Regions from separate parts of the Homo sapiens genome. Here region 1 is linked to region 2. A link means that fine-mapping ties the variant in region 2 to the expression of a gene that starts in the linked region. Tissue or cell type: uterus. Region 2 holds a variant in brackets; the other region holds the start of a gene. All regions are shown on one strand. Distances are between the middles of the regions.

What was found. PIP is the estimated chance that this variant, and not a neighbour inherited with it, causes the effect.
Region 1: it holds the start of SLC25A41, and the variant in region 2 is fine-mapped to the expression of SLC25A41 in uterus (GTEx, PIP 0.96).

Annotation. Positions count from the first base shown.
Region 1 is chr19:6,430,718-6,435,864 of GRCh38, forward strand. It overlaps SLC25A41 (solute carrier family 25 member 41), which reads right to left and starts at 3,046. Exons shown (of 7, transcript NM_173637.4): 1 at 2,770-3,046; 2 at 1,332-1,487. The coding sequence starts at 2,976.
Region 2 is chr19:5,638,255-5,643,401 of GRCh38, forward strand. It overlaps SAFB (scaffold attachment factor B), which reads left to right. Exons shown (of 21, transcript NM_001201338.2): 3 at 3,340-3,404; 4 at 3,486-3,692. Among named protein-coding and RNA genes, the nearest start is that of SAFB, 18 kb to the left of the region's middle. The variant C/T (reference allele first, on the strand shown) is at 3,181.

The DNA of each region.
Region 1 (5,147 bases), 790 kb after region 2:
CCTCAGGTGATCTGCCCACCTTGGCCCCCCAAATTGCTGGGATTACAGGCATCAGCCACCGCGCCTGGCCTTCTTTTCCTTTTCTTTCTTGTTTTTTTGTTTGTTTATGTTTTCGAGACAGGATCTTGTTCTGTTGCCCAGGCCGGAATGCAGTGGTGCAATCACAGCTCACTGCAGCCCCAAACTCCTGGGCTCAAGTGATCCTCCCACCTCAGCCTTCCAAGTAGCTGGGACTACAGGTGCGTGCTACCATGGCAGGCTAATTTTGTAAAATTTTTTGTATAGATGGGGTCTTACTATGTTGCCCAGGCTGGTCTCAAACTCTTGGGCTCAAGCGATCTTCCCACTTTGGCCTCCCAAAGTGCTGGGATTACAGGTGTGAGTCACCATGCCCGACTCCTTTTTAAATTTTTAATTAATTAATTAATTAATTATTATTTTGTAGAGATGTGGTCTGACTATATTGCCCAGCTGGTCTCAAACTCCTAAGCTCAAGTAATCCTCCCTCCTTGGCCTCCCAAAGTGAGCCACTGCACCCGTTTATTTTTTCAGCCAGGGATCTCGCTCTGTCACCCAGGCTGGAGTTTGTGGCATGATCATGGCTCACTGCAGCCTCCAACTCCTGGGCTCAAGCAATCCTCCTGCCTCAGCCTCCTGAGCAGCTGAGACTATGGGTGTGAGATATCCTGCTTGAGGTAGCTCCAGTTCTATGTTGCCTTTTTTTTTTTTCTTTCTTTTTTGAGACAGAGTCTCACTCTGTTGCCCAGGCTGGAGTGCAGTGATGCAATCTCGGCTCACTGCAACCTCCATCTCCTGGGTTCAAGCAATTCTCCTGCCTCAGCCTCCTATGTAGCTGGGACTACAGGCACGCACCACCATGCCCGACTAATTTTTTTGTATTTTTAGTAGAGACAGGGTTTCGCCATGTTGGCCAGGCTGGTCTCAAACTCCTGACCCCAGATGATCTACCTCCCCTGGGCCTCCCAAAGTGCTGGCATTAGAGGCATGAGCCACTGCACCTGGCCCCTACCTTGTCTTTAAACTCGTCCAAAGACCCCATCCCCAATTCCCTGACCTCCAACCCCCACCTTGGCCCAGCGTTGGTCCCTGTCCCTGGCAAGTTCTCTCAACTCCTCAAACTCGACTCCAAGCCATGTCCACACCAGCTCTATCACCATCCACAACCTCAATCTCAGCTAGTCCAGGAGAGCCCAACTCCAGCCAGCACTCCTATCCTGAACTCCATCCACGTCAACTCCATCTGTCCTCACCCCACGTTCTCCCCAGTGGCTCCAGCGCTGGGTCCCGTCCTCCCCCCAACCCACACAAACCTGCATGTACACCTTGGCTCTGTCCAGAGGTGCCGTGCCCGTGCGAGACACCGCCCCGGCCATAGCTCCTGAGAGTAGAAACTTCCACAAGGCCTCCTTGTTATCCACTTCCAGGACTTCCACGGGGACCATCAGCTGCTCTCCTGTGTCCAGTACCTGCAGGGCAGACCCGGCCCTCCCTCATCCTCAGCCAGGTTGGGGCACCTTCCCCAGACACACATCTAGGGCACCCACCTGGTGAAAGACCCACCCTGTTCCCCCAAGTCTGCATTTTTTTTTTTCGAGACGGAGTCTTGCTCTGCTGCCCAGGTTAGAGTGCAGTGGCACAATCTCAGCTCGTTGCAACCTCCACCTCCCAGGTTCAAGCAGTTCCTGCCGCAGCCTCCTGAGTAGCTGGGATTATAGGCATGCACCACAACACCTAATTTTTTTTTTTTTTTTTTTTTTTTTTTTTAGTAGAGATGGGTTTCACTATGTTGGCCAGGCTGGTCTCTAACTCCTGACCTCAAGTGATTCAACCCTCCCCCCTGGTTTTTTTTTGTTTTGTTTTTGTTTTTTTTTAGACAGAGTCTCACTCTATCGCCCAAGCTGGAGTACAGTGGTGCGATCTTGGCTCACTGCAACCGCTGTCCCCCTGGTTCAAGCGATTCTCGTGTCTCAGCTTCCCAAGTAGGGACAATGGTGTGATCTCGGCTCACTGCAACCTCCGCCTCCTGGGTTCAAGTGATTCTCTTGCCTCAGCCTCCCCAGTAGCTGGGATTACAGTGCCAACGTGCCGAGCAAATTTTTGTATTATTTTAATAGAGGCAGGGTTTCACCATGTTGGCCAGGCTGGTCTTGAACTCCTGACCTCAGGTGATCCACCTGCCTCAGCCTCCCAAAGTGCTGGGATTACAGGTGTGAGCCACCACACCCAGCCAATGTAATATAGACTCTCTAAGTTACTCATGGAGGATCCAAGGAGGAATACAAATGTAATTAGGACTATATCTAGACTCTTAATTTATTCTTATTTTTTGAGACAGAATCTCGCTGTGTTGCTCTGGCTTGAGTGCAGTGATGAGATCTGGGCTCACTGCAACCTCTACCTCCTGAGTTCAAGCGATTCTCCTGCCTCAGCCTCCTGAGTAGCTGGTACTACAGGCGCCAACCACCATGCCTGGCTAAGTTTTGTAATTTTAGTAGAGATAGGGTTTCGGCATGTTGGCCAGGTTGGTCTTGAACTCCTGTCCTCAAGTGACCCATCCACCTCAACCTCCCAAAGTGCTGGGATTACATGTGTGGAGCCATCGCGCCCTGCCTCCCTGCCCCACCCTGCTTCAAGGTGGAATTCTAGGTCCGCTAGCAGGGGAGTGGGCCTGTAGAGGGCGTGGGTAGCCTGGCCTCTCCCTGTAGTCCTGACCAGAGGTGCCGGGACACTGGTGTTTCCTAAACTCACCTGCTGTGACGGGAGATGTTCAAGGTTGTTGTCATGCATGTGGCCAAACGCGTACCCATACACGTGTGTACAGCCAGGGTTCCAGGATGGGGGTGGAGGCGGAGGTTGGGGGGGAGGCGGGGCTTTGATGAGTAAGGTCTTGACCCTCCTAAACAGTGTCTGGATCCTAGAGCAAGTGTTCTGAGGTTCCCCAGGCTGAGCGCCCATGGAGGAAGTTAGGACACCTGGCTTCAAATCCCTAAGCAGTTGTTTGCTGCTCCAGCTACCATGCGGGAGTGTCTAGTGGGAGGATTGTGTGGGGGACCAAGAGGAGGATGAAGTCACAAACGCCCCTGTGACCTTCCTAGGTGTGGTGGGCAGCGTGATGGCCCCCTTCCCCCAAGTATCCACCTCCTGATCCCCCAAACCAATAAATATGTTATCGTTATAAATTGAATTGTGTCCTGTCAAAATTATTATTATTATCGTTTTTTTTGAGACGGAGTCTCGCTCAGTCTCCCAGGCTGGAGTGCAGTGGCGCTATCTTGGCTCACTGCAAGCTCCGCCTCTGGGGTTCACACCATTCTCCTGCCTCAGCCTCCCGAGTAGCTGGGACTACAGGCATCCGCCACCACGCCCAGCTAATTTTTTTATTTTTTAGTAGAGACGGGGTTTCACCGTGTTAGCCAGGATGGTCTCGATCTCCTGACCTCATGATCTGCCCACCTCAGCCTCCCAAAGTGCTGGGATTACAGGCGTGAGCCACTGCTTCCGGCCGCAAAATTCTTATGTTGAAGCCCTATTTCCCAGTGGGTTGGAATTTGGAGACAGGGCCTTTGGGAGGTCCTCAGGGTTAGATGAACTCATGAGGATGGCCCCTGCAAGATGGAATTAGTTCCCTATAAGGAAAAGACAAACCAGAGCTCTTTCTCTCTCTCTGTCTGCCATGGGAGGACGCAGCAAGAAGGCATGGCAGGAAGAAATCCCTCAGCAGGAACTGAGCTAGCCAGCCACCTTAACCTTGGATTTCCCAGCCTCCAGAAATAAATGTCTGCAGTTTAAGACCCCGCTCTTTAGTGTTTCCTTATAGCAGCCTGGGCTGACTTACATTTGTTACATGGCAAAGGGGAATTAAGTTTGCAGATACAAATAAGGTTGCTAGGCCTGATGTGGTGGCTGACGCCTGTAATCCCAGCACTTTGGGAGGCCGAGGTTGGCAGATCATCTGAGGTCAGGAGTTCGAGACCAGCCTGACTAACATAGTGAAACCCAGTCTCTCCTAAAAATACAAAAATTAGCCAGGTTTGGTGGTGTGCCCCTGTAATCTCAGCTACTCTGGAGGCTGAGACAGGAGAATTGCTTGAACCCAGGAGACAGAGGTTGCAGTGGGCCGAGATTGAGCCATTGCACTGCAGCCTGGGCAACAGAGCGAGACTCCATCTCAAACAAACAACAACAACAACAAAACTTTGCTAGGCTGGGCGCCGTGGCTCATTCCTATAATAGCAGCACTTTGGGAGGTCAAGGCAGGTGGATCACTTGAGCCCAGGAGTTCAAGACCACCCTGGGCAACATGGCCAGACCCCTGTCTCTATAAAAAATACAAAAATTAGCTGGGCATGGTGGTCCATGCCTGTGGTCCCAGCTACACAGGAGGCTGAGGTGGGAGGGTTGCTTGAGCTTGGGAGGTGGAGGCTGCAGTGAGCTGAGATCTTGCCACTGAACTCCAGCCTGGGTGACAGAGCGAGACCCTGTCTCAAAAAAAAAAAAAAGAAAAAAAAAAAAAGAATTAAGGTTGCTAAACAGCTGATGGGAAATGGTCTCACTCTGTCACCCAGGCTGGAGTATAGTGGCACACTTAAGGTCAATCCCCTTGACCTCTCTGTTCAGGTGGTTCTCCCACTTCAGCCACCCGAGTGGCTAGGAACACAGGTGCGGACACCACGCCCGGCTAAGTTTTAAAAATTATTTTTGGCTGGGCGTGGTGGCTCACACCTGTAATTCTAGCACTTTGGGAGGCCAAGGCAGGTGGATCACCTGAGGTCAGGAGTTTGAGACCAGCCTGGCCAACATGATAAAACCCCGTGTCTACTAAAAATAACGAAAATTAGCTGGGTGTGGTGGTGCATACCTGTAATCCCAGCTACTCAGGAGGCTGAGGCGGGAGGATCACTTGAGTCCAGGAGTTCAAGACCAGCCTGGGCAGCAAAGCAAGAAATTTTTCTACAAAAATTTTTTAAAATTAGCCAGGTGTGGTCATGTGCACCTGTAGTCCCAGCTACTTGGGAGGCTGAAGGGGGAGGCTCCCTTGAGCACAGGAATTAGAGGCTGCAGTGAGCTATGATTGTGCCACTGCACTCCAGCCTGGGTGACAGAGTAAGACCCAGTCTCTAAAAAAC
Region 2 (5,147 bases):
TATGAACCTAAGAAGGTATGCAGCCTCTTGATGTTTTTCACATTTTTTAAAATTACTAAACTCTTTTTATTTTATTTATTTTGAGATGGAGTCTGTCTCTGTCACCCACACCAGAGTGCAGTGGCTCAATCTCATCTCACTGCAACCTCTGCCTCCTGGGTTCAAGCGATTCTCCTGCGTCAACCCCCCCACCGAGTAGCTGGGATTACAGGCACCTGCCACCATGTCCTTCTAATTTTTGTATTTTTAGTAGAGCTGGGGTTTCACCATGTTGGCCAGGCTGGTCTCAAACTCCTGACCTCAGGTGACCCACCCACCTCGACCTCCCAAAGTGCTGAGATTACAGGTGTGAGCCACCACGCCCAGCCTAAAATTACTAAACTCTTGAAGAAAAACCTGGAGTTAAGCCATACCTTCCAATCGTTTTTTAGTTTCTTTTTTTTTATACTTAATCTTAGTCTTTTTTTTTTTTTTTTTTTTTTAAAGACAGTCTGTCTTGCTCTGTCACCCAGGCTGGAGTGCAGTAGTGTGTTCTCGCCTCATTGCAATTTCCACTTCCCGGGTTCAAGCGATTCTCCTGCCTCATCCTCCCCAAGCTGGGATTACAGGCGCCTGCCACCACGCCTGGCTAATTTTTTTGTATTTTTAGTAGAGACGCGGTTTTGCCATGTTGGCCAGGCTGTTCTCAAACTCTTCTCTTGACCTCAGATGATCCACCCGCCTTGGCCTCCCAAAGTGGTGGGATTATAGGCATGAGCCACCACGCCTGGCAAGTATTTTCTATTTAGAAAAACATGGTAATGCCACATATCTAAAACTGGAACAAAAATAACAGATCAGTGGAAGAGAATGGAAACAAGTAATCCCAGACATAAATACAAATATAATATTGCGGAAGCCAACATTTCAAATTGGTCGGGGGCAAGTACTATTTAGTCAGTGGTGCTGGGAAATCAGTTTCCAAATGGGACAACTATTGGGAAAATAGTCTCACTCAACATGAAACTGAGAGAATAAATGTTTAAAACTTCAAAAGAACTAAATACAGGTGTATATTATTTAGCCTTCAGTATGGAGGAGGACATCCAAGCATGAAGGTATAAACCACTTACATTTTAAAAACAATTAATAGCTTGGCCACATAAGAGTGAAATGGGCCAGGGCGCGGTGGCTCATGTCTGTAATCCCAGCACTTTGGGAGGCTGAGGCAGGTGGATCACCTGAGGTCAGGAGTTTGAGACCAGCCTGGCCAACATGGTGAAACCCCATCTCTACTAAAAATACAAAAATTAACTGGGTGTAGTGGCAGGCGCCTGTAATCCCAGCTACTCAGGCGGCTGAGGCAGGAGAATCACTTGAACCCAGGAGGCAGAGGTTGCAGTGAGCTGAGATCAGGCCACTGCACTCCAGCCTGGGTGACAGAGCAAGACTCCGTCCCAAAAAAAAAAAAAAAGAACAGTGAAGTGTACTCAAAACCTGTAAACAAAATTTAAAAACTGGTAAAGAACTGGGAAAATATGTTTTGTACATATGATATATAAACTTCAAATGATGGGGGATGGAGCCGAAGTGTTTTGTTTGTTTGTTTTGTTTTGTTTTTGAGATGGAGTTTTGCTTTTGTTGCCCAGGCTGGAGTGCAACGGCAGGATCTCGGCTCACCGCAACCTCCACCCCCTGGGTTCAAGCGATTCTCCTGCCTCAGCCTCCCAAGTAGCTGGGATTACAGTCATGCCCCACCACACCTGGCTAATTTTGTTTTTTGTTTTTTTGGTTTTTTTTAGTAGAGACAGGGTTTCTCCATGTCAGTCAGGCTAGTCCCGAAATCCTGACCTCAGGTGATCCGCCTGCCTCGGCCTCCCAAGTGCTGGGATTACAGGCGTGAGCCACCGCGCCTGGCTGGAGCCGAAGTTTTTAAATAGTGGGGTGTAAATCAGAAATTTTTAGAAAAGTACAGGTGATCAACAACAAAAAGCAAATGATTCAAAGCAATTTGAGTAGTCAGGAGATAAATTCGTGTTAAAACAGTATTCCTTTTCTTACCTAGCATATTGGCAAAGATAAAGAAAAATAGCAAATTTTTAACAGAGATTCAAGAAAGATTGGCTTTTTTTTTTTTTTTTTTTTTTTCTGGAGATGGAGTCTCGCTCTGTTGCCAGACTGGAGTGCAGTGGTGTGATCTCGGCTAACTGCAACCTCTGCCTCCCGGATTCAAGCGATTCTCCTGCCTCAGCCTCCCGAGTGGCTGGGACTACAAGTGCACGAGATTGGCACTTTTTAATTCGCTGTTGATGGAAATGTATAAGTTAAAAAAAAACCTTCCTCTGCAATTTTTGTTTTGTTTTGTTTTGTTTTTGAGACAGAGTCTTGCTCTGTCATCCAGGCTGGAGTGCAGCGGCACGATCTCAGCTCACTGCAACCTAAACCTCCAGAGTTCAAGCGATTTTCCTGCCTCCGCCTCCTGAGTAGCTGAGATTACTGGCAACCGCCACCACAACCAGCTAGTTTTTTGTATTTTTAGTTGAGACAGGGTTTCGTCAGGTTGGCCAGGCTGGTGTCAAACTCCTGACCTCAAGTGATCCACCTGTCTCGGCCTCCTAATGTGCTGGACTTAACAGGCATGAGCCACCGTGCCCAGCCCCTCTGGAGTATCTTGATAGTATGTGGGTTTTTTGTTTTTCTTTTTTTTTTTTTTTTAACCGAGTTTCGCTCTTGTTGCCCAGGCTGGAGTGCAGTGGCGCAGTCTCGGCTCAGTGCAACCTCCGCCTCCTGGGTTCAAGTGATTGTCCTGTATTTTTAGTAGAGACGGGGTTTCACCATGTTTTCCAGGCTGGTCTCGAACTCCTGACCTCAGGTGATCCGCCCGCCTAGGCCTCCCAAAGTGCTGGGATTACAGGCGTAAGCCATCGCATCCGGCCCTTCTTTTTTCTTTTTAAGCATTAAAAATGTGCATACTCGGGCATGCGCAGTTTCTGTGGGAAAACATGTTCCTTAACTAAAAGGCAGCACATTTGCAACAAATAATTTTTCCCTCAAACAAGGACACTTGGGATAGGAAGAAGGGCAGAGCTGAGGACAGGTCTGATCCTGTTCAACTTTACTAAGAACCTGTTTTCTGCACTTCTACTTCCACAGCTCAGACAAGAACAGAACCTCTTCTGCTTGGGGGTGGGGCAGGGCTGT[C/T]TTGTGCGGAATGGCCTCATTCCTGGATTAGGAAGTGTTCCTAAGTAGTGAGGTGTCTCAGATGTTTATAAAGTGACCACTTGTGTAGTGCTCAGGGCATTGTTGCTTCTGTAAAGTGCGTATCATTTGATCTCATGCTGTAAATGATTCTGTCTTCAGGGCGCAAACCAGAAGAAGAGGGTGTGGAAGATAACGGGCTGGAGGAAAACTCTGGGGATGGACAGGTATGTGCAGCCTTGCGAGTGAGTAGCGTGGTGGATGGACCAGTGGCGGTCACATGATGGTTCGGTCTGGTTGTGTCACAGGAGGATGTTGAGACCAGTCTGGAGAACTTGCAGGACATCGACATCATGGATATCAGTGTGTTGGATGAAGCAGAAATTGATAATGGAAGCGTTGCAGATTGTGTCGAAGACGATGATGCTGATAACCTCCAGGAGTCCCTGTCGGATAGTAGAGAGCTAGTCGAGGGGGAAATGAAAGAGCTTCCGGAGCAGCTTCAGGAACATGCTGTAGGTAACCGGCAATGTCTCTAGAATGTGCCCTGAATGTATCAGTTCCACAATTAAAATAGGTGATCAGTTTCATATTGGGAAGTAAGTTGTTCTGTAATGCCAGTTCAGTAGAATAAGGGTCAGTTGGTTCAGATGATTCTGAACCAATTTGTTTTGTTGAAAGGTGATGTCTTATAACATTTCATATGTACTTGCTATCCATTTGCGGCATACAGTATGAGACATTTTGAGGACAACCATTCAGACTCTTCCTGTTGCCGGACTTGATCTGTGGTGTTATGGCCTAGGTACCTTGAAAGCATTGAACTAGGAAGAGGTTAGAAGTTGGTGTTTTCCTGTTAAGAAGCAATTGTTGAGCTGGGTGCCTTGATGCACTCATGTAATCCGGTAACTCAGAAAGCTGAGGTGGAAGGAGCAGCCCAGGAGTTCAAGGCTGTACTAAGCTATGATTGTGCAATTGAAGTCCAGCCTGGGTGGCAGAGTCTGACAGAACCCTATCTCTTGTTTAAAACAAACAAACAAAAAAAAAAACACAGCCAGTTGATACCTATCTTAAGAGTTAACCTCAAGTATTAACCTGGATGTTGTTTTTAAACCTAAATTTTTTTCCTGTTAGAAACATATCAAATGGATAGTAAGATTATAGTGGGTAGTATTTCCTGAATACTACCTACCAGGCATTGGCATTATGCCCTTCCTTTCTTTTTTTTTTTTTTTTTTTTTTTTTTCTGAGACAGAGTTTTGCTGTTGTTGCCCAGGCTGGAGTGCAGTGGCGCGATCTCAGCTCACTGCAACCTCTGCCCCCTGGGTTCAAGTGATCTCCTCCCTCAGCCTCCCAAGTGAGTAGCTGGGATTATAGGCGCCCACCACCAAGCCCGACTAATTTTCTTGTATCTTTAGTAGAGACGGTTTTCACCATGTTGGCCAGGCTGGTTTTGAACTCTTGACCTCAGGTGATCCGCCTGCCTCAGACTCCCAAAGTGCTGAGATTACAGGTGTGAGCCACCGCGCCCAGCATGTGCCCTTTAATTCTTCTAATAGCAACATGAGGTGCTGTTGTCCCCATTTTCAGTTGAGGAAATTGGGAAGGCAAGAACTAAAAAACATCTCCAGATGACACACAGCTCATAACAGAATAAGAACTAAGATCAGGCTAATTCCAGAGGCCATGTACTTAACTTATGTACGATGTTGTCTTGGTGCCATTAATTTGATATTAATTTCATTTACCTGATGATTAATGTTTGTCAGACAGAAAAAGTGATGCATATGAGAAGCTGTGGGGCCCTTTCTGTGTTGGCTCGTGGGGGGCCCTGTTCTTGTCCTGGTCCTTAGGTCTTCCGCAGTGAGTGCTTCTCAAGCAGTCTTGGTGGACAGAAACCTTGTTGTATGCCAGTCAATCCGCTTCTGCATTTCTTCAGAATATTTTTGCATTTCCTCTTGGAACTGATT